6 linked regions of the Homo sapiens genome follow. The protein of the gene in region 4 purifies or fractionates together with the protein of the main gene of each other region. This does not show direct contact. Each region holds a gene or a part of one and is shown on either strand. Other genes may lie near its edges. The genes, in order: DPY19L1, ZAR1L, CCDC198, NEK9, BOP1 and CAP1.

Evidence for each region.
Region 1: the proteins of NEK9 (region 4) and DPY19L1 purify together in Homo sapiens (affinity purification with mass spectrometry, with the first as the bait; one large-scale study listed by BioGRID). This does not show direct contact.
Region 2: the proteins of NEK9 (region 4) and ZAR1L purify together in Homo sapiens (co-immunoprecipitation; one large-scale study listed by IntAct). This does not show direct contact.
Region 3: the proteins of NEK9 (region 4) and CCDC198 purify together in Homo sapiens (affinity purification with mass spectrometry, with the first as the bait; one large-scale study listed by BioGRID). This does not show direct contact.
Region 5: the proteins of NEK9 (region 4) and BOP1 purify together in Homo sapiens (affinity purification with mass spectrometry, with the first as the bait; one large-scale study listed by BioGRID). This does not show direct contact.
Region 6: the proteins of NEK9 (region 4) and CAP1 fractionate together in Homo sapiens (co-fractionation; one large-scale study listed by BioGRID). This does not show direct contact.

What each region holds. Positions count from the first base shown.
Region 1 is NC_000007.14:34,936,453-34,939,986, forward strand, and holds part of DPY19L1 (protein C-mannosyl-transferase DPY19L1), read right to left. Parts: intron 2,924-3,534; coding exon 2,824-2,923; intron 1,668-2,823; coding exon 1,542-1,667; intron 1-1,541. UniProt on the Homo sapiens protein: C-mannosyltransferase that mediates the C-mannosylation tryptophan residues on target proteins.
Region 2 is NC_000013.11:32,308,863-32,312,396, reverse strand, and holds part of ZAR1L (protein ZAR1-like), read left to right. Parts: intron 1-303; 5' UTR 304-471; coding exon 472-1,125; intron 1,126-1,665; coding exon 1,666-1,758; intron 1,759-3,534. UniProt on the Homo sapiens protein: mRNA-binding protein required for maternal mRNA storage, translation and degradation during oocyte maturation.
Region 3 is NC_000014.9:57,487,326-57,490,859, forward strand, and holds part of CCDC198 (factor associated with metabolism and energy), read right to left. Parts: intron 1-3,534. UniProt on the Homo sapiens protein: May be involved in tuning the metabolism, energy expenditure, and excretion processes.
Region 4 is NC_000014.9:75,103,045-75,106,578, forward strand, and holds part of NEK9 (serine/threonine-protein kinase Nek9), read right to left. Parts: coding exon 3,458-3,534; coding exon of another isoform or gene 3,422-3,457; intron 2,953-3,421; coding exon 2,906-2,952; intron 954-2,905; coding exon 798-953; intron 1-797.
Region 5 is NC_000008.11:144,264,473-144,267,453, forward strand, and holds part of BOP1 (ribosome biogenesis protein BOP1), read right to left. Parts: intron 2,709-2,981; coding exon of another isoform or gene 2,142-2,708; exon of another isoform or gene 1,981-2,141; intron 600-1,980; coding exon 445-599; intron 360-444; coding exon 242-359; intron 145-241; coding exon 43-144; intron 1-42. Other genes in the region: SCX (basic helix-loop-helix transcription factor scleraxis), read left to right, coding at 2,142-2,708. UniProt on the Homo sapiens protein: Component of the PeBoW complex, which is required for maturation of 28S and 5.8S ribosomal RNAs and formation of the 60S ribosome.
Region 6 is NC_000001.11:40,039,437-40,043,549, forward strand, and holds the start of CAP1 (adenylyl cyclase-associated protein 1), read left to right. Parts: upstream 1-1,292; 5' UTR 1,293-1,365; intron 1,366-1,589; exon of another isoform or gene 1,590-1,707; intron 1,708-1,992; exon of another isoform or gene 1,993-2,057; intron 2,058-4,113. UniProt on the Homo sapiens protein: Directly regulates filament dynamics and has been implicated in a number of complex developmental and morphological processes, including mRNA localization and the establishment of cell polarity.

The sequences.
Region 1 (3,534 bases), on a different chromosome or scaffold from region 4:
TACAGTTGTTTCAAGAGAGTGAAGCCCAAAGAAATAAAGAAGATCCCCATTCTGGTAGAAAGCTATGCTAAGAACTGAGTTCTTCCTATTGCAAATGTCAGCCTATCATTCATTTCATATAATTTCCTAAGATCGTCATGAGATGCTTAGAACTTTTCTGTCCTAAATTTATATAACAATGTTAAAGGTGAGTATGTGAATTTCATATACATATTCACAAACGCTTAAAACATTTTCTGAATTATTACAAAATAACATTTTCTATAAATCCTGACTGAATTCAAACCACGTAGCACACGTTCATAGGAGAATCATTCTATAATCAACAATTATTTTAGTTTCCTTGTGAGCAAAGCTGTAGATACTATGTCACAGAACTATTTTTCACTCACGACTCAGTATTTAACAATGTTGTCTTAATACCATATGTGTCATTGAAATATATGGTGGGAAAGTGTGATCAAGCCACAAATATAGCAATCTCTTGAACGCTTTTGTTTAGTTACAGAATAGTAAGAATTTAAAAAATATTATTATTCCATAAAATAGTGTTTATTTCTGATAAAATTGTTCCTGTACTGTGCTCTTCATGAAGTGAATGTTTTGGTACTTTAAAAGCAGGCTACTGTCACCTGGTGTCCAGTCACTTACGTGCCACATTTCTAGATAGCTTTAGATTCACATCTGCTTTGAAGATCTTACTGTCACTTGGAGCTATACTCAGCTTAGTAAACATCTCTGTGGAAATAGAAACTTAAAAACTATAAACCCAAGAGAAAGTGGGTCACAGTAGAGTCATTTTCCCATTCAAGTAAGATGTGAAACACCAGGAAAGAAAAATTTCATTCTGAGTTTTTGCTGACAGGGTATCCCATCCATCGACAGGACATGGTGTAGCACAGAGACCCAGTAAGGATAATGTGACCCCTGGTGCTCAGCTGCCTGACTTCACCAAAAGAGACTCCCCATTACTTGGTTTCAGACCCTGGAAGTCTTTTGAAAGAAAATACATCCAACTTTAAATAAAAGTTTCTTTTAAAACATCAAAGGCAAATATGAACAATTTGGGAGATTATCAACTAGTGCCAATAAAATCTCTTTAAGGTAGTATACACATACAAATCATTATTTAAAAAAAAAAGATATTTATAAAGACTATAAAAGAAAGTCTCCAAATCATTATCTAAAAAGTTTTTTCAGGCCAGGCGTGGTGACTCACGCCTGTACTCCCAGCACTTTGGGAGGCCAAGGCAGGAGTAGCACTTGAGGCCAGGAGTTTGAGACCAGCCTGGTCAACACAGCAAAACCCCATCTCCACTAAAAATACAAAAATTAAGTGGAGCTTGCAGTGAGCCCAGATCATGCCAGTGCACTCCAGCCTGGGCAACAGAGTGAGAGCCTGTTTAAAAAAAAAAGAAGAAGTTTTTCCATGTATACTTTATGTTATATACACACCCCCGCCACCAGCAAAGCATGTGCCATGTGCTTGAATTAACCTTCATGTCTTATGATTATAAAATGTTAACTGTGTTGATACTCACTTGGATCTTCTTACACACCATGACTCTTCTAGAATGTAATAGTTCACTTTTAACTTTATCAGTTCTCGCTTCACTTCTTCGGCTGCTTTCCGACTATACATTGAGTATACTATTTTTGTTCTGGCTCTTTAAAGAAAAATAATTGGGCATAAAATTTTCAAGACTAAAACGATACAATAACACATTTGGAAGAAAGCACTGAATTAGACTAGAAGACGATGAAGAAGAATCCAGTCAGGAGGAAATTCCCCATGGAAGTTCCCGCTAAGGGGCATCAGTGAGGTCAAAAGCAGAAGGCAGGAGGAGGACAAGTTGTGGAGAAGAGGGTGACCTTTAACACACCCCTACATTCCCAAACTTGGTCTCTTTGTGTTTGTTCACTTATTTATTTGTCTTAAATTCTTCACTTCGCTATCACATGTAAGAGTAAGGTACCCTGTGTGTGAACAGGGATGAACTACAACAAACACAACTATAGGACTACTGTGAAGCTGCAACAGTCCCAACTTAGACATCAACAATAATTCACATTAAATGGTTCTTCATTTTATTTCTAGATTTAAGAAAAACTAAACTTATTTAACAAAATTGGTCTGGAAATTAGCTTGATGAGATTGATTTTTTAATGAAAAAGCTTATTTGTGAATGTACATGCCATTGTTATGAAAAAGAAGATGCTAATAAGATTCACCTAATCACTTAGAAAATGAATAGCTTCACCTGCCTTAGAAACTGCAAGAAAAATTAAATTTTTAAAAAAAAATTTGGACAACACATCTCTAAATTATTTTTTAAAGTCTCAAAAAAATCTAAAAAAACATAAAACACCCAAGATCATTCTAACAGGCTATACTGGTGAAAACCAGAATAAACTCCTCTTTGAATGGGATTCTATTTCAAATGACTTCTCCAAACTCAAGAAAAATCACCTATGAGAAAACCTTAATAAACACTCTAAGCTAAACTCCCCAGGGAGTTACAGGATGAAAAGGACTTGGACATTTTAGAGCCCTGTTAACCTGTGGGAAAGTGCTATAGTATGACTTCGTTTATATGCCTGGTAGAGAAGAGAGCCCCCAAAGTTGTCACTTTCCTGCCCTGTGAAGCTTTAACGGATTTGTTTAGAGCTTAGCGGTCTTATTTCAGCTTTCTGCTCCCTGACTCGATAAGCCTCAGTTCATCATATCCTTTTGAAACATTCCTTATTACTTTGCTGGTGTCCTCCACTCACTGTCTGTTTGCATGGGAGGTTTGTTTTGATGATGCAAGACTGTGCACTGACCTCAAGCCTGCGTCTTCATAATGTGGATGATTCACAATGGGCCGAAGTGCAGAGAGCTTAACACTTGCCATCGTGGGCATGGCACCCGCAAACACTGCATCTGGAAGGCAAGAGGAATGTCTCAGGAAGACACTCAGTGAAGGCGAGAAGGTGTCTCCTTCAAGTGTAAATCAATTATTTCACAGGTAACAGAGCGGAAGCCCAGCAGGTTCATGACTTCAAGATTCAATGGCAGAACTAGCATGAAGTCAGATGGCTGATAAAGTAGCAGTTGGCAGCCAGGCCTGGGTAAACTATTTTCCTTGGAAAACAGAGCTTCATCATCTCATCATTAAAGATTTCTTTCTTTCTTTAAAGAAAAAATCTTAGAAATCTTTCCTGAATCTAAAAAAGAAGTATCAAATGGACTAGGAAAGCTTTACAGTAACAAGGAGTTCTGGAAGATGATTTAGTATTCAATCATTTGATACTCAGATGACAACAAAGTCTCCCTTTCCACACATGAATAAAATGTCACATTCCATGAGTTTATTTCAAGAAGGAATGTGAAGGACTAATATTAAAAATTCATTAAGAAAATAAGCACAGGAAAAATTATTTTAAATGTGGCATTTATGACTGTGAATAAATTTTGAAAAAATTAAAATCTATAAAAAATGGCAGAATAAATTACTAAGAACATATGTATAACATTTCCCCTGCAAACCATTT
Region 2 (3,534 bases), on a different chromosome or scaffold from region 4:
GATTACTGGATTATCTGGTACTTCTATTAACTTTTTTAAGGAACCTTCATACTGTTGTCCATAATGGCTGTACCTTAAAACATTATCTAACATTACCACATTACCTTACAAAGGATCTTTAGAATGGTCACTACAGGAATATATGAATTAATCACTAATTAAAGCATATGTGTGAATAAGCTGGAAATGAAAAACAGCTTTGAAAAAAAGATTCCCGAACAGTGAAGAGGTAGGGAAAAGCAATTAGGTAGGAATCAGGTGGCAATTAGACATCTGTAGATAGAGCTTCTCTCCCTCAATCAGGGTAATAAGCAGCAGCTCCCATTAGAATCTGAAATAAATGGAGAAGCCAGGAATGAATCTGAACCAACCTGATGAAGAGAAAGAAGGGGCGGATGAAGGAGGAAGGCAAAATAAGGACCCAAACAAACTGGCTAGGATATTAGACTGCGCCTGAGCACCTGAGAGCGGATGGAGCGCTTTGTCCGTGTTCCCTATGGCTTGTACCAGGGTTATGGGAGCACAGTGCCTTTGGGCCAGCCTGGACTCTCAGGGCACAAACAGCCCGACTGGAGGCAAAATATGGGTCCTCCCACTTTTCTGGCCAGGCCAGGGCTGCTGGTGCCCGCGAACGCCCCTGACTACTGCATTGACCCTTACAAGAGGGCGCAGCTTAAGGCCATTCTCTCCCAGATGAACCCCAGCCTGAGCCCGCGGCTGTGCAAGCCCAACACCAAGGAGGTGGGCGTGCAGGTGAGCCCGCGGGTGGACAAGGCTGTGCAGTGCTCTCTGGGGCCTCGCACCCTCAGCAGCTGCTCCCCCTGGGACGGCAGAGACCCCCAGGAGCCCCTGCCAGCCTGTGGGGTCACTTCGCCCGCCACCGGCCGCAGGGGCTTGATCCGCCTGCGGAGAGATGGGGACGAAGCGGAGAGCAAGGCGCTCCCGGGCCCTGCGGAGGCCAGCCAGCCGCAGCCACCATCACGGAGGTCAGGAGCTGACAGGCAGGAGGAGCCCGGGCAGCTGGAGGAATCGGGGGAGAAAGACGCCCCGTGCCCTCAGGAGACGAAGAGCAAGCAGGTGCCTGGAGACGCCGCCTCCGAGCCGCTCCGGAGGCCCAACTTCCAGGTAGATCCTCTCTTCCCTCTTCTTAGTCCTCGACCAGCCTCATCCCCTCCCTCCTTTTCCATCTATGGGGGCAATAAGAGCAAAATCTTCTCTCTCTTCTTCCATGTACTTGGTGAAGGAGAGGGAGCTCTGAAAATATGTATATCACGTGGCCTGTATGTTTGGTAAGTTTTGGGTAAAATAGGTGCCAACCCAAACTAAGCCTGTGAAAACCAACAGTCTGGCAACCACTGCTATTGGAGAATTTGGAGACGAAGAAGGGCTTCGAGTCTGTAATACATGAAATCAGACTTTCGTTTTGGGAAGATTGTGCCGGTAGCATTGTGGAAAATGGATTGGAAAAGTACAAACGACAGCAGCAAGAAGAATCCCAGAGTAATCTTTAAGAGAGATGAGAAACTGAATCAATGCCGTAGTCTTGAGAATAGATACAAGTGAGGTTAAAGAAGTCATTTTTTTTTCCTTATACAAAGTCATAAAGAAGGATCTGGCTTTTTTCCCCTTGCATGATGGTAAAGTACTTTTCTTCTTTATTTTCAGTTTTTGGAACCAAAATATGGCTATTTCCACTGTAAAGATTGTAAGACCAGGTGGGAGAGTGCTTACGTGTGGTGCATTTCTGGAACGAACAAGGTAAATAAAAAGAGTAGGAGGTGAGAGGAGGATGGGGTGGGCACGGATGGTAAGCGGGGAAGAATCTGATTCCTGAGGGAGCATGGCTGTCATAGTCCTGTCTTGATCTTGGTGGCATCCCCCGTGCCAGGTGTACAGGAAGTGCTCAGTGAATGAATGGAACTGAATCGGACTGTCCACCTGGGTTTCCGAACCATACTCTGGCGTTATATATGACAAGATGTCAGGTTACTTAGATGAACTTTTGTTCTTGTCTACATTGGAAGTTTTTCTAACCGTTTTTTAGTTGGTATGCTTGGAACAGGTCTGGGCCTTAGCGCTAGGAAATTTCCACTGTTTGTCCACAAGGTGGGGCAATAAGTGAAAAAACTTACTGTAAAGATTTGCCTGTAAGAGACTTAGGCTACGCCTAAAGTTTCTTTTGCCCCCTTCCTAATTTAATTGCCAACATATTAGGACTGGAAAAGGCTTCACATTAAATTCTGCATTTCTGCATTTTCGTGAATCCTGTAGGCTCTGGTCATTAGAGACCCTCGTTTGAGAATGAGAACAGCAGGCTGCCCCTAAGGCTTCCTCTTCTTTTCCTTGCCCTGTGCACCTCGTTTTGCAACAGTCTACGTGGCCCGATGTTATTAACCTCCATAAGCATTTGAGTGTGAACGCCCTGTGCTGTCGCATGTTTAGAAATTGCCTTACTGGCCAAAGGACTGTGGAGAGAGAGGGCAAAAAGGCATTGAGTTCCGGATGAAAACTTGATTTCTCACACTAGCCATTTACTAGAGACCTAGAGAGTGAATAGATTTTTAAAGTTGAAGTTGAATTTACTTCCTTCTCTTGCCAGAAGAAAAATGAGTTTAATTCAAACATTCCAAGGCACTAGGATACAAAGAACAAAACACAGGACTTGTTCTCAAGGAATTTATTTTGATACGAGTGATGGAAACAAAATGTAATTTGGCAATACGTGCAGTAGCATCCTTCTTCATATGGAAGCAGTGCAGAGATAGCACAGGAAGGAGGGTATTAGCTCTGTCTGAGGGAAGACAGCTTGATGTCCAAGCAGGATTTGAAACAATAAATAGGAGGAAGAGTTCACCAAGCAAGGCAGAGAGAAAATGTGCACAGGAAATTGCACAAAGCCTAGAAAGCAGGTGGTATTGATGGGTAACCACAAGTAATTTAAAGTGTAAGCCGGGAAATACTGAAAAATGAAACATGTAAGAGCTAAAAGATAAGGACAAAAAGTATGGCAGCCACTTCCCATTGAGTATCTACTGTGGTACTTGGTGTACATTATTAGGGAGTTCTCAGAACTATGGAAAAAGTAAGTATTAATCGTATTATTCTGGCTGGATGCGGTGGCTCAGGCTTGTAATCCCAGCACTTTGGGAGGCCGAGGTGGGTAGATCATTTAAGGCCAGGAGTTTGAGACCAGCCTGGTCAACATGGCAAAACCCAGTCTCTACTAAAAATACAAAAAATTAGCCGGGTGTGGTGGCGGGCACCTGTAATCCCAGCAACTCAGGAGGCTGAGGCAGGAGAATCGCTTGAACCCAGGAGGCGGGGGTTGCAGTGAGCCGATTTCCCACCATTGCACTCCAGACTGGATTACAAGAGCAAAACTCCATCTCAAAAAAAAAAAAAAATGTATTCCAATTTTATGGGTAAGGAAAATTAGATTCAAAGAAAAAGTGATTAATAAGAACTAGTACACCTTGAAACCCCAAGGGTAGAGGTTGGTAAAAGCAAGATAAAAGGCAAGGCAAGGGTAGAAGT
Region 3 (3,534 bases), about 18 Mb from region 4:
GAAGGGCCAGGGGACTCAAGAGTGCTGATATGGGGGTTGCAATGTCAATTGATTGGTCAGGGTGGGTCTTATAGGGACAGTGAGATTTGAACAAATATTTGAAGATGAGGGAGTTATCCAAGGAGATCATCTGAGGACACACTATATGTGTGGGGGAAACACCTCCAATTTAAGCTAGACCTGAAATGGTTGGATAAGAAGGTGATCAGGCCAGAGGGGACAGTGCTAATCAACTCCTCAATAAAAAGGCCCATTTGATTCGGAGTTCCCTGGCAGAGGCTCTCAAAGCCTCTCAGCTCCAGGCTGGATAACGCTAGTTCATGACTTGCTCTTTATTTGAGGAGTAGATGTTTAGGAAGTAGAAGGTGCCAAAAATATATCTCAAATAATTTAGCATACAATTAGATTTGGTTTAATAATTTAAAATAATTTTAGAATTTTCTTTGGCAGAAATTAGGCTATTAATTAGCATGTCATGAGGACCCAGCATGTATTATTCTCTCAAAAACTCATTTGTGCTGGAAAATGTGCTGAGCTTCATTTGTGAAGATAATTATAGCTGATCTCTTTGGGAGTGTCTGCCAAGTTTCTAGTGATTTCCCTCCTCTCTGGGAGCTGACTTCAGAGTCTACAGGGGAGATGACTCTGCCCACATATCTACTGCATGAGCATATCCTCTGGCCATAGCTCATTGGACCAGAGCTGAAATCATGAGCAAAGCTGAGCCGATATCCTTTCTCCTAGGAATCTGGAATTGGAGTCAAAAAGGCCAATCTGTCCATTTGACTGGAACTGTAAGATACAAGCTCAGGGTGGCCATATTTCATTGTGTACCTGAAGAACAGAAAAAACTGATCTTTGGGGAGAAAGAGTATAGCAAATGCACAGAGAAGAACTTAGGGATTGAGAGAGCTCTGCATTTCAGGTTGCAAGGTATAATTCTTCCCTGAAGCTTAGGTGTCTCCCAGATCTTTGGTTCAATAAAACATTCCTATATCCTTTGATTAATCATGTTAGTTATTTTTGCTAGTCAATGAGACTTCTAATACAGTCATGTTACAGTGATGGTACAGACTTCTAATACAGTGATTACAGGTCTGCAGTAGCAGGGAGTGCACTTTGAGTGCTTTATCCCCCCTCCAGCAGGGATGATGGGTCTCACTGTCATTCATTTACTCATTCATTTTACTCACAAACCTTTGTGGATCTCATATTAAGTATTAATGGCTGAAGACATAAGATTGAATAAGACATAGTCTTTGCAACCTACAGAATGGGAGAAAATTTTTGCAGTCTATCCATCTGACAAAGGTTTAATATCCAGAGTCTGCAAGGAACTTAAACAAATTTACAAGGAAAAAACAAACAACCCCATTAAAAAGTGGGCAAAGGACATGAACAGACACTTCTCAAAAGAAGACATGCATACAGTCAACAAACATGAAAAAAGCTCAACATCACTGATCATTAGAGAAATGCAAATCAAAACCACAATGAGATACCACCTCACACCAATCAGAATGGCTATATTAAAAAGCCAAAAAACAACAGATGCTGGAGAGGTTGCGGAGAAAAAGGAATGCTTTTACACTGTTAGTGGGAGTGTAAATTAGTTCAACCATTGTGGAAGACAGTGTGGTGATTCCTCAAAGACCTAGAGGCAGAAATACCATTTGACCCAGCAATCCCGTTACTGGGTATATACCCAAAGGAATATAAATCATTCTATTATAAAGATACATCGATGCATATGTTAATTGCAGCACTGTTCACAATAGCAAAGACATGGAATCAACCTACATGCCCACCAGTGATAAACTGGATAAAGAAAATGTAGTACATATACACCATGGAATACTATGCAGCCACAAAAAGGAACGAGATCATGTTCTTTGCAGGGACATGGATGGAGTTAGAAGCCATTATCCTCAGCAAAACTAACTCAGGAACAGAAAACCAAACACTACATGTTCTCACTTATAAGTGGGAGCTGAACAATGAGAACATATGGACACAGGGAGGGGAACAACACACACTGGGGCCTGTCAGGGTTGGTGGAGAGGGAGAGCATCAGGAAGAACAGCTAATGAATACTGAGCTTAATAGCTAGGTGATGGGATGATCTGTGCAGCAAATCACCGTGGCACTTATTTACTTTTATAACAAACCTACACATCCTGCACCTGTACCCCTGAACTTAAAAGTTGAAGAAAAAAAAGGCACAGTCTTTGCACTGAAATAATTCATTTGTCTTGATTCTTTGTTTTTAAGATGGTTGGTTAGGGTGTGTGTGTATGGGGGTGGTGGTGCAGTGTTTGACTCTGAAATACCAATGTTCTCTTTTTGACCTTGTTTGACTATTGAGAAAATCAAAACCTAACCTCCTTTGTTTAGGACTGATAGATATAAAAAGTACTTGTGAGCTATAAAGTACTAGACAAATATTTTTTACTAGAGTAATATCTTCTATTTGAACTAATCAGCTTAGAGGCTTCACAGAAACATGTATTAAACTCATCCTTTGAAAGGAAGTATTTGATTTAGGAATAAAACACATTTTAAACTGCCCTGTTTACCTAGAGGATTTGTAAAAACTTGTAAATTAGATATTAATTTGTTATATTTCATTTTATTTTTCTTTATCTAAATAATGATTTTATAGTTTCTAATATTTTGGGAAAAGATACTCTTTTGAGACAAAATGATACAATCACTTCAAATAATGGCTGTGAGCTTCTGCAGAAGACAGGTAAATAAAAACCAACTGAAACAGAAATAATCCCCAACAAATGAGCTCCAGTACCCCTGGGATTGGTCCAGGCATCTGGGTGAATTGTGTAGCAGGTGGGATTTGGCTTCAAATGTCAGTGATAGATCCTGCTCACAAGAGAGCCCCAAACCCTCCTTCCAATGATGCTCATTTTCAAGGACCACTCCAATCTACCCATTCCCTTTCTAGGTTGAGAGTTCTTAAAATGTATAGCTAGCTGCAGAGAACCCATTAAATATTTATTGGGGTGAATGCGTTTAAAGCTCTTGCTTTGCTTCCTTGGAATCCAGTGTCCCGAATTTAAACAACCAGTTAACATCTAGAACAATAAAAGGTTAAAGATAGAAGGACTATAGAAATTACTTATGCTGACAGTTAAGAGTACAGACTTTGGAGACCTGGTTGATATCTGGCCTCTGTGAGTCTTTGGGGGTAGTTACTGAACTCTCTGACTAGCATGTATAAAACAAAGATAATTCTTCCTTTTTCATAGGTGGCTAAGAAGATTAAATGAATGACATAGATTGAATTGCCTAGTATAGTATCTGACTTGTAGTAGGGTGTAATTAAATAGTAGTAGCTGTTATTATTTATTACAAGTTGTTTTCCCATAGTCACCCAACTAATCAGTGCTAGATTCAAGCCTCTTGAATTCCATGGTATCTATGTCCTTGCTACTAGCTTCTTTCGGTGGCTGGTCTTAAAAGCGAAATCATTGCTAAAGGAAATCTTAAAGTAATAGAGTATTTGCGATTGATGACATT
Region 4 (3,534 bases):
GGGTGGGGGAAGGGGGGAGGGATAGCATTAGGCGATATACCTAATGTAAATGACGAGTTAATGGGTACAGCACACCAACATGGCGTATGTATACATATGTAACAAACCTGCACGTTGTGCACATGTACCCTAGAACTTAAAAGTATAATAAAAAAAAAAAAAAGGAAACTAAGACAATATCAGTGGTGAATTTGCTAACATTTTTGAAGACAGAATGGTAATTACATTCGATAAGCCTAAACAGGATCAGTGATTTGGGAGAAATCTAAAAAACTCCAATCAATCAAAAAAACTCCAGGAAGGTGATGCATGGAAATATGTTTTTTTTTATAACATTAATTTGCTTGTTCCTATTTCAATAAGGTAAAAGCTGAATTTCATCATTTTATTCTTTGTAATCAATTTATTTGTTGAAGTATAACACACTGCAAAATATCACACAGCTTGACACATTTTTCTATATACATATACTGGTAAAACCATTACAGATCAAGATATAGACCATTCCCATTACTCTAGGATCCCTTCCACCTCTTCTGTTAATACCCCTCCTTCAATAAGTAGCCACAGTTTTGATTTCTGCCAGTATAAGTTAATTTTGCCTGTTCTTAAATTTTACACAGATAGAGCTATATAGCATGTACTCTTTGTGGCTGGCTTCTTTTTCTGCACACAATGCCTATGAGACCATAACTAAAGTCAAATTCCATGGTCACTAACCAATAATGGCATCTCAAAGAAATTCCAACCTAGAGAAATTCTGATGATGTGGTTAGAACACCAATCAGGACACTCACTTCATGGTTGATAATTCCCGACATGCACTGATTCAGACCCAGCTTATTGAATTCATTGAGTCCACAGGCCAGCACTTTGCCTGACTGGGTCAACAGAAATGTCCCATCACAGCCACATTGAACTGCAACAATAATCAAGGCCTTGGGAACATCCACCTGCAAGAAAAAAATCAGAAAAAGAAATCCCAAATATATAATTCGTATTAGAAAAAAAGCTCTCAAATTCTTTCAAAAGAGACATGCTGCATTTAGCAGAATGACTACAGGAAAGTGAGGACTGCTCTATTCTTTTCAGGTTTGCCCAGTGTCTTAGAGACTACTTTTTCTTTTTTTTTTTTTTTGAGATAGAGTTTCCCTCTTTTGCCCAGGCTGGAGTGAAGTCGTGCGATCTTAGCTCACCGCAATCTCTGCCTCCCAGGTTCAAGCGACTTCTCCTGTCTCAGCCTCCCAAATAGCTGGGATGACAGGTGCATGCCACCACGCCCAGCTAATTTTTGTATTTTTATTAGAGATGAGGTTTTGCCACGTAGGCCAGGCTGGTCTCGAACTCCTGACCTCAGGTGATCTACCCACCTTGGCCTCCCAAAGTGCTGGGATTACAGGTGTGAGCCATCACGCCTGGCTGAGACTACTATTTTCTTTTCTTCTTTTTTTTTTTGAGGTGGAGTCTTGCTCTGTCGCCCAGGCTGGAATGCAGTGGTATGATCTCAGCACACTGCAACCTCTGCCTCCCAGGTTCAAAGCGATTCTCCTGCCTCAGCCTCTTGAGTAGCTGGGATTAAAGGCGTGTGCCACCATGCCCAGTTAATTTTTGTGTTTTTAGTAGAGACAGGGTTTCACCATGTTGGCCAGGCTGGTCTCGAACTCCTGACCTCAAGTGATTTGCCCGCCTCGGCCTCCCAAAGTGCTGGGATTACAGGCGTGAGCCATTGTGCTCGGTCAAGGCTACTGTTGTCAACGAAGAGCTCAAGTTTTACAATATCAAAGAAAAGGTGACAGTTCCAGGTCAACTAAACAAGACAGCACCCTCTCAGTTTGTCTTAGTAATAGGTCCTACTTAGGGTGACCTGTCAAAAAGTTGAGAAAGAAGCTTCAATTCATTGCTGATTTTGTCCTTTGAGATGGAAGGCTGCTTGACAGTTACAGAAATTCAGTAGCCCTGTGGGGTCCCAATCTGGTCATTTTATAGGAGAGGTGACAGAGTACTGAGGTAATATCTAGGACTTCCAAATGCTCATATCTTTTTACAGCTAACTAGACAGGACTGGAGAAGGTGGGGTGATGCATGTGTGGGGTCACAATGGATGTGTGTAAAACCTGAAACCTCAACCCTCAGTTTCTGCCACAGCCTTTCCAGGAGAAAAGGAACAGCTGGGAATCCCATTGAGGATGGTCCCTAGAAATGCATAATAATTTAATTTTTAAAATATAAATAAAAACTGGTTTGGCTAAAAGTTCCCAAGGAAAGAAAAAAAAAAAAGAAAACAGAAAACCCAAAACACTGCTAACAATAAATGGTATAGCTGATTTAGCCAACCCTCCAATGGGTAAGCCTGTGCCCTAGGGTAGGTGGGAGAGATGTGACTGTGCTTTTCCCCCAGCTGGTATCAGCCTCTGTGAGCCTCTCACAGGGCCAGCTCTGGCAAGGCTGAGAGTAATTAGATAATATGTTTCATGCAACATGACCGCTAAACAAAAACAACTATTAATATTTCATCTGGTGGTCAACTGTAGAAACAGGAGAGGAAAATGGCTGTGTTGGGTTAAGAGACAGTATACTGCTTTACAGTATCTTCTCGAGTTTTCCAGGGTATTTGTAGCTATATGTGACTTTTCTGCTGTACACGCTGATTTTAGCTGTCATCCCTGAGTAAGATGTGACTTCACAATGTCCACAGTCGCTGTATCCACTTTCTCAATTTTCTGTGATTTGGTCAGATGACAAGACCACAGGGTGCTAAATCAGGAATCCTAAATTGTCAGTCTCCCAAACAGGAAACACTTCGGAAATAAATACCTTGATACAACAGAGCCAAGGAAAGAGGACATATTATTGGAGTCTGTGCGACTTAAGATAGGTTTTAGAAATAAGTTGCTTCTGATTTTACCTTTTGTGGTGTATAATAATCCTCTTCTGAATCCAAACCCAGTCGTCCTGAAACACACATAAGAATGAAAATCATTATAATGAGGGCTTCCTTCCCAGTGAATAGGTTCTGTAAGATTCTCTTTTGCCAGGTGCGGTGGCTCACACCTGTAATCCCAGCACTTTGGGAGGCCGAGGCAGGTGGATCATGAGGTCAGAAGTTCGAGCGAGACAAGCCTGGCCAGTGTGGTGAAACCCCATCTCTACTAAAAATACAAAAAATTAGCTGGGTGTGATGGTGTGTGCCTGTAATCCCAGCTACTCGGGAGGCTGAGGCAGGAGAATCACTCGAACTCGGGAGGTGGTGGTTGCAATGAGCCCAGATCATGCCATTGCACTCCAGCCTGGGTGACAGAGAGAGACTCTGTCTCGAGAAAAAAAAAAAAAAAAAAAAAAAAGATTTACTGAATTAACACTTCTCATTTAGGGGCTGCATGATGGGTTTAGATGCATACAACTTTGAAGTCAGGTTGTATACCTGTGAAGAAGTGGACAGAGACAAGGCTACCCCTACCATATTCGCCACAGCCCCAAGAATAGACTTCCTTGTTTCGTGTCAGAACCACCACATGATTATCTCCACAGGAGACC
Region 5 (2,981 bases), on a different chromosome or scaffold from region 4:
GGCGGTCAGCCCAGGCCAAGCCCCAGGGGCTGTGTGCCCCACCTTCTCCTTCTCCACCAGGGAGGGGATGAAGCTGCGCTTGTCGGCCGGGCGGTTGGTCACCGGGTGGATCATGACGTCCCCGCTGAAGAAGTCGACAGCCGGCTGGGGGAGAAGATGTGGGCGTGTGGGCCAGAGTGGCTGAGGCCCTGCTGGTGCCTCCAGGACCCCCGCCGCCCAGGGGCCAGCCCCTGCCACCTACCTCATAGGGGTTGAAGCCCACATCCCCAAACTGGCCACTCTGCAGCCGCCGCACCAGGGCCACCTGCTCATCCGTCAGTCTCAGGTCCCGCCCTGTCATCGGGTCCTGCACGGTGCGCCTGGAGACCGCCAGTCAGACCCCGCCAGCCCTGCCCCACCCCTCGGGCCCACCCCGGCTGCTGGCCCCACCCCACCAGCCCTCACCAGTAGTCAGGATCGTCCATCTTGTCCAGGAACTGGTCCAGCTCATCCCGGGTCCGCAGGGGCTTGTAGATGCGCCTGCCATCCAGGTCGTAGCCCACGTGGGGGAAGTCATCGTACCACTCCAAGGGCACGTTGCCCACCGTGTTCCGGATGTCCTGCAGCCGGGGGCCACCATGTCGGCATCTGATCCTACAAGGCCCACCCCCGCTTCGGGCCGCCCAGGGGAGCAGGTGAGGGGGTTGCAGGGGGAGTGCAGGCCCAGCCTCAAGTGCCCTGAGGTCACTGGCCCTGACCTACGCCTGTTCCCCAGCCCTGGGGTCTGACGTGGCATGGCGGCCACGCTGCCCCCACCCCCGCCCTCGGAGGCGCCGGAGCTGCACCTTCACATTTTCCACTGAAGTGGTGCCAACCCCAGAGCTCCCCCCTCACTGGATTCCTTGGCCAGGGCTCTGGGCAGCCACAGACAGGGATGACCTCATCACCCACGGGCTCCCTCCCCTGGCAGGGGCCTTAGGCAGAAGTGGGCAGCTATAAGACGGGGACTCGGGGAAGACCCCAACTGACCCATTCCACAGAGAGGCAGAAGCCAAGACCTCTCTGTGGGGGACCCCCCACCGTCTGCCCTCGGCCCCTCCCCAGGCAGAACAGCCACGTTCCTGGACGTACATTCCTGGTTGCAGCCCCTGCCAGCCGCCACCCTCGCTCCTTCCAGCCTGGGGACCGCTGCCCAGGAGGCTGCTTCCTGCAACAGTAGCCACGGGGAGGGGCCCAGGCAAGACAGAGCACAGCTGGGAGCCTGCCGGGCCCCCTGCTGCAGGAGGGACCCCTTGGGCCCTGCCCCCTGCTGAGGGTCCTTCCCTCTCCTCCCCATGGAGATAGGGGGCCATCCCCAAATTGGATAATGGGGGTATGTGTGTGCTTCCTGAGGGGCCTGGTGGCCCTGGAGAGGAACGGGGGAAGGAGGAAGGGGCAAGGAGACCGACGGGGTGAGAGGTCCACACAGCACAAGAACAGGGGACATGGCCAGCTAGCAGAAGGCACAGTCTGTGCCAAGCCTGGAGAGGCAGGTGCAGGACAGACAGGCGGAGAGACTGAGCTCTAGGCCCCTAAATACTCGCCTGTGCCCGCCCCCTGCACACGGCCTGGCACAGGCAGGCGCTGGCGCACATGGGAGGCAAAGACAGACAGGGTGCGGTCAGGCAGCAGGGCCAGGGCGGCTGGGTTAACTCAGTTGTGCCACGGGAGAAAACGGGGTGGTGGGTTCCTCCCCTCTCCCGGGGACGGGGGGCACTGCAGTTTTGGGGCCCTGAGTAACTACAGCCCAGAAGCGACCTCCCAGTTCCTCCGCATCCCCAGAGACGGAACGATGCCCCCAAAGACCAGCCCCGCCCCCCCCACCCCCGCCAAAGCGTGGCCACAGAAGGCCGAGGGACGCGGCGGGCGCTGCTCGAGGAGCCTCCGGGCTGAGAGGGGCGGGGCGTGCGCGGGGGAGGGGCCGGGACGCCGCTATAAAGGCGCAGCTCGGGGCCCCGCTCCGGCCCGGGACGCACATGTGCGCGCGACGCCCGGCAGCTGCCACCGCGGGGCGCAGCCGAGACCCCGCGCCTCGCCCCGGCCGGCCCGCGAGGCCCGCGGCGGCCGCAGGAGGCGGCATGAGCAGCGCGCGACAGAGCTGACGCCGCGCCCCCGCCGGCCCCATGTCCTTCGCCACGCTGCGCCCGGCGCCGCCGGGCCGCTACCTGTACCCCGAGGTGAGCCCGCTGTCGGAGGACGAGGACCGCGGCAGCGACAGCTCGGGCTCCGACGAGAAACCCTGTCGCGTGCACGCGGCGCGCTGCGGCCTCCAGGGCGCCCGGCGGAGGGCGGGGGGCCGGCGGGCCGGGGGCGGGGGGCCAGGGGGCCGGCCAGGCCGTGAGCCCCGGCAGCGGCACACGGCGAACGCGCGCGAGCGAGACCGCACCAACAGCGTGAACACGGCCTTCACGGCGCTGCGCACGCTGATCCCCACCGAGCCCGCCGACCGCAAGCTCTCCAAGATTGAGACGCTGCGCCTGGCCTCCAGCTACATCTCGCACCTGGGCAACGTGCTGCTGGCGGGCGAGGCCTGCGGCGACGGACAGCCCTGCCACTCCGGGCCCGCCTTCTTCCACGCGGCGCGCGCCGGCAGCCCCCCGCCGCCGCCCCCGCCGCCTCCCGCCCGCGACGGCGAGAACACCCAGCCCAAACAGATCTGCACCTTCTGCCTCAGCAACCAGAGAAAGTTGGTGAGCACGGGCCGTGGGGCGCCGAGGGGGGCCTCCAACGCGCCCCTCAGCCCACACCTGCCAGGCAGAGGAGGCGAGGCCACACGGGCAGGGCTCCCCAACAGGGCACAGGCAGGCACACCTGTAACACAGGCCTGCCGGGGGCTGGGGCCTTCTCCTGGGGCTCCTCTCCAGGGCGTCCCTAGGACACTCGGCTCCCAGTGGAGTGTGGAGTCCCCTGCAGGGAGCTGCATGAGGGGTAAGAGCTAGGGATGGCCAAAGGGGCCCACCCAG
Region 6 (4,113 bases), on a different chromosome or scaffold from region 4:
GGCATAATGGTACCTACCACCGAGAGTTGCTATTAGGAGTAAATGAAAATACGCTTGAAGAACTCAGCATGGGCCTGGCAAGTAGTCAGCGTGCAGTAAATGGTAGCTGTTATTTTAAGAACTTTATTTGTTGAATGATTGACTCTGGCACATAACGCCTGCATTCAACTTGAAACACGGAGCTGTCACAGTCGTTCAGCTGAAGGGGCGGGAACTGTGGCACTTGCCAATTTTTTCTAGAAATAAATCTTTGTGGGAGGATAATGACCGGTTGGAGAGTGTGAGTCTTGAGGGAACAAAGATCGGATCTCCCGGCCCAAGGAGTACGGAAGCGAAGCCTCCCCTGCGCGCGGCAGCCACCGTGCGTAACCTCCCCTGAACCGAGTAGCAGCCGCCTGAGCCCACCCAGCCCTGGGCGAGGCTGCCTCAGAAGCCGGATTTCAGCAGAGTGGGTGCAGGATCTGCTTTAATTCTGCTCATCTTATTCTCGGGGACCACACCCTGCGCGCCGGGAGGAAGGGCTCCAAAACCACAGGGCGGAGGCTTCCGCGCGGCCCCAGACTTGACCATCTATGGTCACAGAACACACCGACCAAACAGGAAGTGGGGTGAGAGCGGAGGGTTCCCTACCTTCCCAGCCCCGCGACTGCCAGCCGGGCTGGGGCTGACCCACCGCGCCCTCACTGACCCCCACGCCCTGCGCCCAGTCTCCGCAAGTCCTCCCACAACAATGTCCAGACTAATTGCCTTCCCACGTCACAAACGGGGAAACCGAGGTATGCACGCCCAGAGACAGGCGGAGCGTGGCCTCGATCACCACCGAGAGCTGACGGCCGCCCGGATTCCCGCCCTCAGAGAATCCTGGCCCCCAGTCGTTCCAAGACCCTTTACGGACTGCAGCTTAAAGGAACCGGCCTCTGCCATTGAGACCAAACTGACAGAGGAACTGGTCACTCTTCTGTTCTTTCCAGAGAGGAGCTTAGCCAGGGACTTCTGCCCTTCCTGGGCCCGGGCCTCGGGGGCGATTCCGGGTAGGTAAAGCGGAACGAGGGCGTGGCCTCTCTTGTGAGCCCGCCCTCCCCGTGTCGCTCCCGCCTTGAGGGCGGGGCTCTTTCCCAAGTGCCCTCTGTGAGAGCCGGGCCGCTCTCTCCGGGGCGTGGCGAAGAGGGGCGGAGTCACGAGCGGGGCGGTGAGACTTCCTGCCCAGTCGCGGGCCAGCCTAGCGCTTCAGCCGGCGGCTCATTTCCGGTGGGGGCGCCGCGCCCAGTGAGGGCCCGGAAGTGGGTCGCGCGGAGATTGCTGGGCGGTTCTTGCCGGAAGCGGAGAGCGGCTGATCGCAGTCCGGAGGTGAGGCGGAACTCTGAGGTGAGGGTGTGCAGCTTGGTAGGGATTGGGGTCCCTTCCGGGGCCCATCGGCCCCTGGTGGTGTTAATGGCCCTTCTGGCCTACGCGCGTGTCATGAACCCTGCCGAGAGGGCCGGGGCTGAGGCCCTCAGGCCGACCCGGACTCTTGGGCGCGGTCTCTTGAGGTGGGGCCGGGGTGAGCAGCTGAGTCCGGGTGCCCCGGGGAGGCCCCTCTGCCCGATTTCGCAGCGCTGCCCATCAGCTTCAGCGGAGGCCTGATTCCTGAGGTGCTCTGACTGGAAGGAACCTCCGAGATCGGAGAGTCTTCCCTGTCTCCTGTTGATGCTCCCATTGCACTGATAGGTAAATTGATCCCTAGAGAAGAGGCTAGTCTGAGATATATAGCGAGTGAGGAAAAGAATCGGAATCATGATCCTGGTGCCTTAGATAACCAGCCCCAGTTCTTCCCGTGTTGCTCGGAACCTCTCTAACTTGGGATGGTCTTCCGGTCGGTGTTGCCCCGCAGGCTGCTGCAGGTTAAAGGCCAGCGCTGCGTGGAACTTTTTTTTTTCTCTCCTCCCAAATTGAGCCGTTTGAAATGCCTAGGGAGTTTTTAAAAGAAAGGCGGGCACATCCTTGTATTTACAGGCAGATATCCTCCCTTTCCTCCTCGGCTGCTGCTCTTACTTTGACAAGCCAGGCTAACATTGAAGGTATGTACTTCTGGACCTGAAATCAGACGGCTCAGGTTTGGTCTGGCCTCAGTGCTGAGTGTCTGTGGCCATAGGTGCCTTAAACTTCTTTCAGCCTCCTTTTGTTCATCTTTTAAGTGGAGATCTCTGCTGACCCCACAAGATTAAATTCAGCGTAACAAATTGTGTTTATTCTGTGCCAGCATTTTCCCAGATGCGGGGAATGCAGCTTTAAAACAAAACAATGTAGACCCTGCCCGCGTGGAGCTAGCAGTGTTTGCAGGGATGTTTAAGAAGTAATTATAAATGTTGATGAGTGTTAGGAAAGAACAGGGTGCTCTGAAAGTATGTAACAGGGGGTTCAGGAAAAGCCCTTCTGAAGAAGCAGAGTTTTTAAGATGAATTTTGAAGGATAAATAGGAATGCGTTCGAAGAGTGGAATGAGAACATTTGAGACAGGTTAGCATCAGAACTGTGTCAGTTGAAGCTCTTTGTGGGGCTCTCTCTTCAAGAGAAAATCCGGGGGCATATCAGCACATTTATCATTTACCAGACTTTTATTTAATTTATTTATTTGTATTTTTAGTAGAGATGGGGTTTCGCCGTGAAGGCCAGGCTGCTCTCGAACTCCTAACCTCAGGTGATCCCCCCACCTCGGCCTCCCAAAGTGCTGGGATTACGGGCATGATCCACCGTGCCCGGCCCCACCAGACGTTTATTAAGACCTTAATATGTATGAGGCACATTTTAATGAGATAGCCTTTGTGGCAAAGAATACAGTTCTTCTGGAGTTTACAGTGGGAGAGGAAATAGACAAGTAAATGAGGGATGGCTTACAGTGTCATAGTGCATAGCACAGGGCTACAAGAGCACAGTGGAGAAATACCTGAGCCAGGTGCCCAGGGTTCCAGGAGGAAATGGGAGGCTAACTCTTGAAATATTTATTTAGCTACATAGGGAATCCGGAAAAGGGATTTCCAGGCAGAGACTACTACAGGTGCAAGGACCTGGAGAACCGGACAGCTGAAAGACCATGACGAGTTCAGTGTGACTGGAATTCTAGTAATGGCTGGGGAAGTGGAGGAAGTGAGATGTGGTCAGGTCAGTCATATGTGGAGGACATTGTAAGTCATGCTAAGGAATTTGGATTTTTACCCTGAAAGCTATGGAGATGCTTTGAAGGGTTTTATGCAGGAAAATGATGTCGTCAGATTTATATTTCAGAAAGTTCATTCTGTCAAGTAGGAGGGGACCAGCCCTGTGGGGAAGTAAAACAGTGTTTGGAAGCTCTTGCTGTAGACATGGCCTGAACTAAGACAGTGGAAATGGGAATGGAGAGGAGGCATCAGATGTGAGCAATATTAAGAAGATAGAATCCATAGAATTGGAGGCTGATTATGGGAATGAAGAGGTAAGAATAGCGCGATTGCCTGGCTTTCTGGCTTAGGGAACTGAATGGGTAGTACCATTCAGATAGAGAGTATGAGAGGTAAATTAGGGAAGTGACATGGGAAAAAATGCATTTTGAATGTTTTTAGTTTGAGGTGTTTGTAGCACATCCAGGCAAAGATGTCTAATAAGGTGGGTCAGCTAAAGGAAAGAGCAAGAGTAAAGATACGGAGGCAGGAGAGGGCCTAAATTGTTCAGTGATACTGGGGCCTGGAGTTTTGCAGAAGACCAGACTGCAAAAAAGGTTAGATGTCGGCCAAGTTGTGAAGGGCTTTTTGTTTGTTTGTTTGTTTTGAGACGGAGTCTTGCTCTGTTGCCCAGGCTGGTGTGCAGTGGCACAATCTCGGGTCACTGAAACCTCCACCTCCCAGGTTCAAGGAATTCTCCTGCCTCAGCCTCCTGAGAAACTGGGATTACAGGCGTGCGCCACCACGCCCGGCTAATTTTTGTATTTTTAGTAGAGACGGGATTTTACCATGCTGGCCAGGCTGGTTTCGAACTCCTGACCTCGTGATCCGCCTGCCTCGCCCTCCCAAAGTGTTGTGATTACAGGTGTGAGCCTCCGCACCCGGCGTGAAGGGCTTTTAATGCCTTGTTGAATTTGTTTGGATTTGATTTTGTGGGTGGC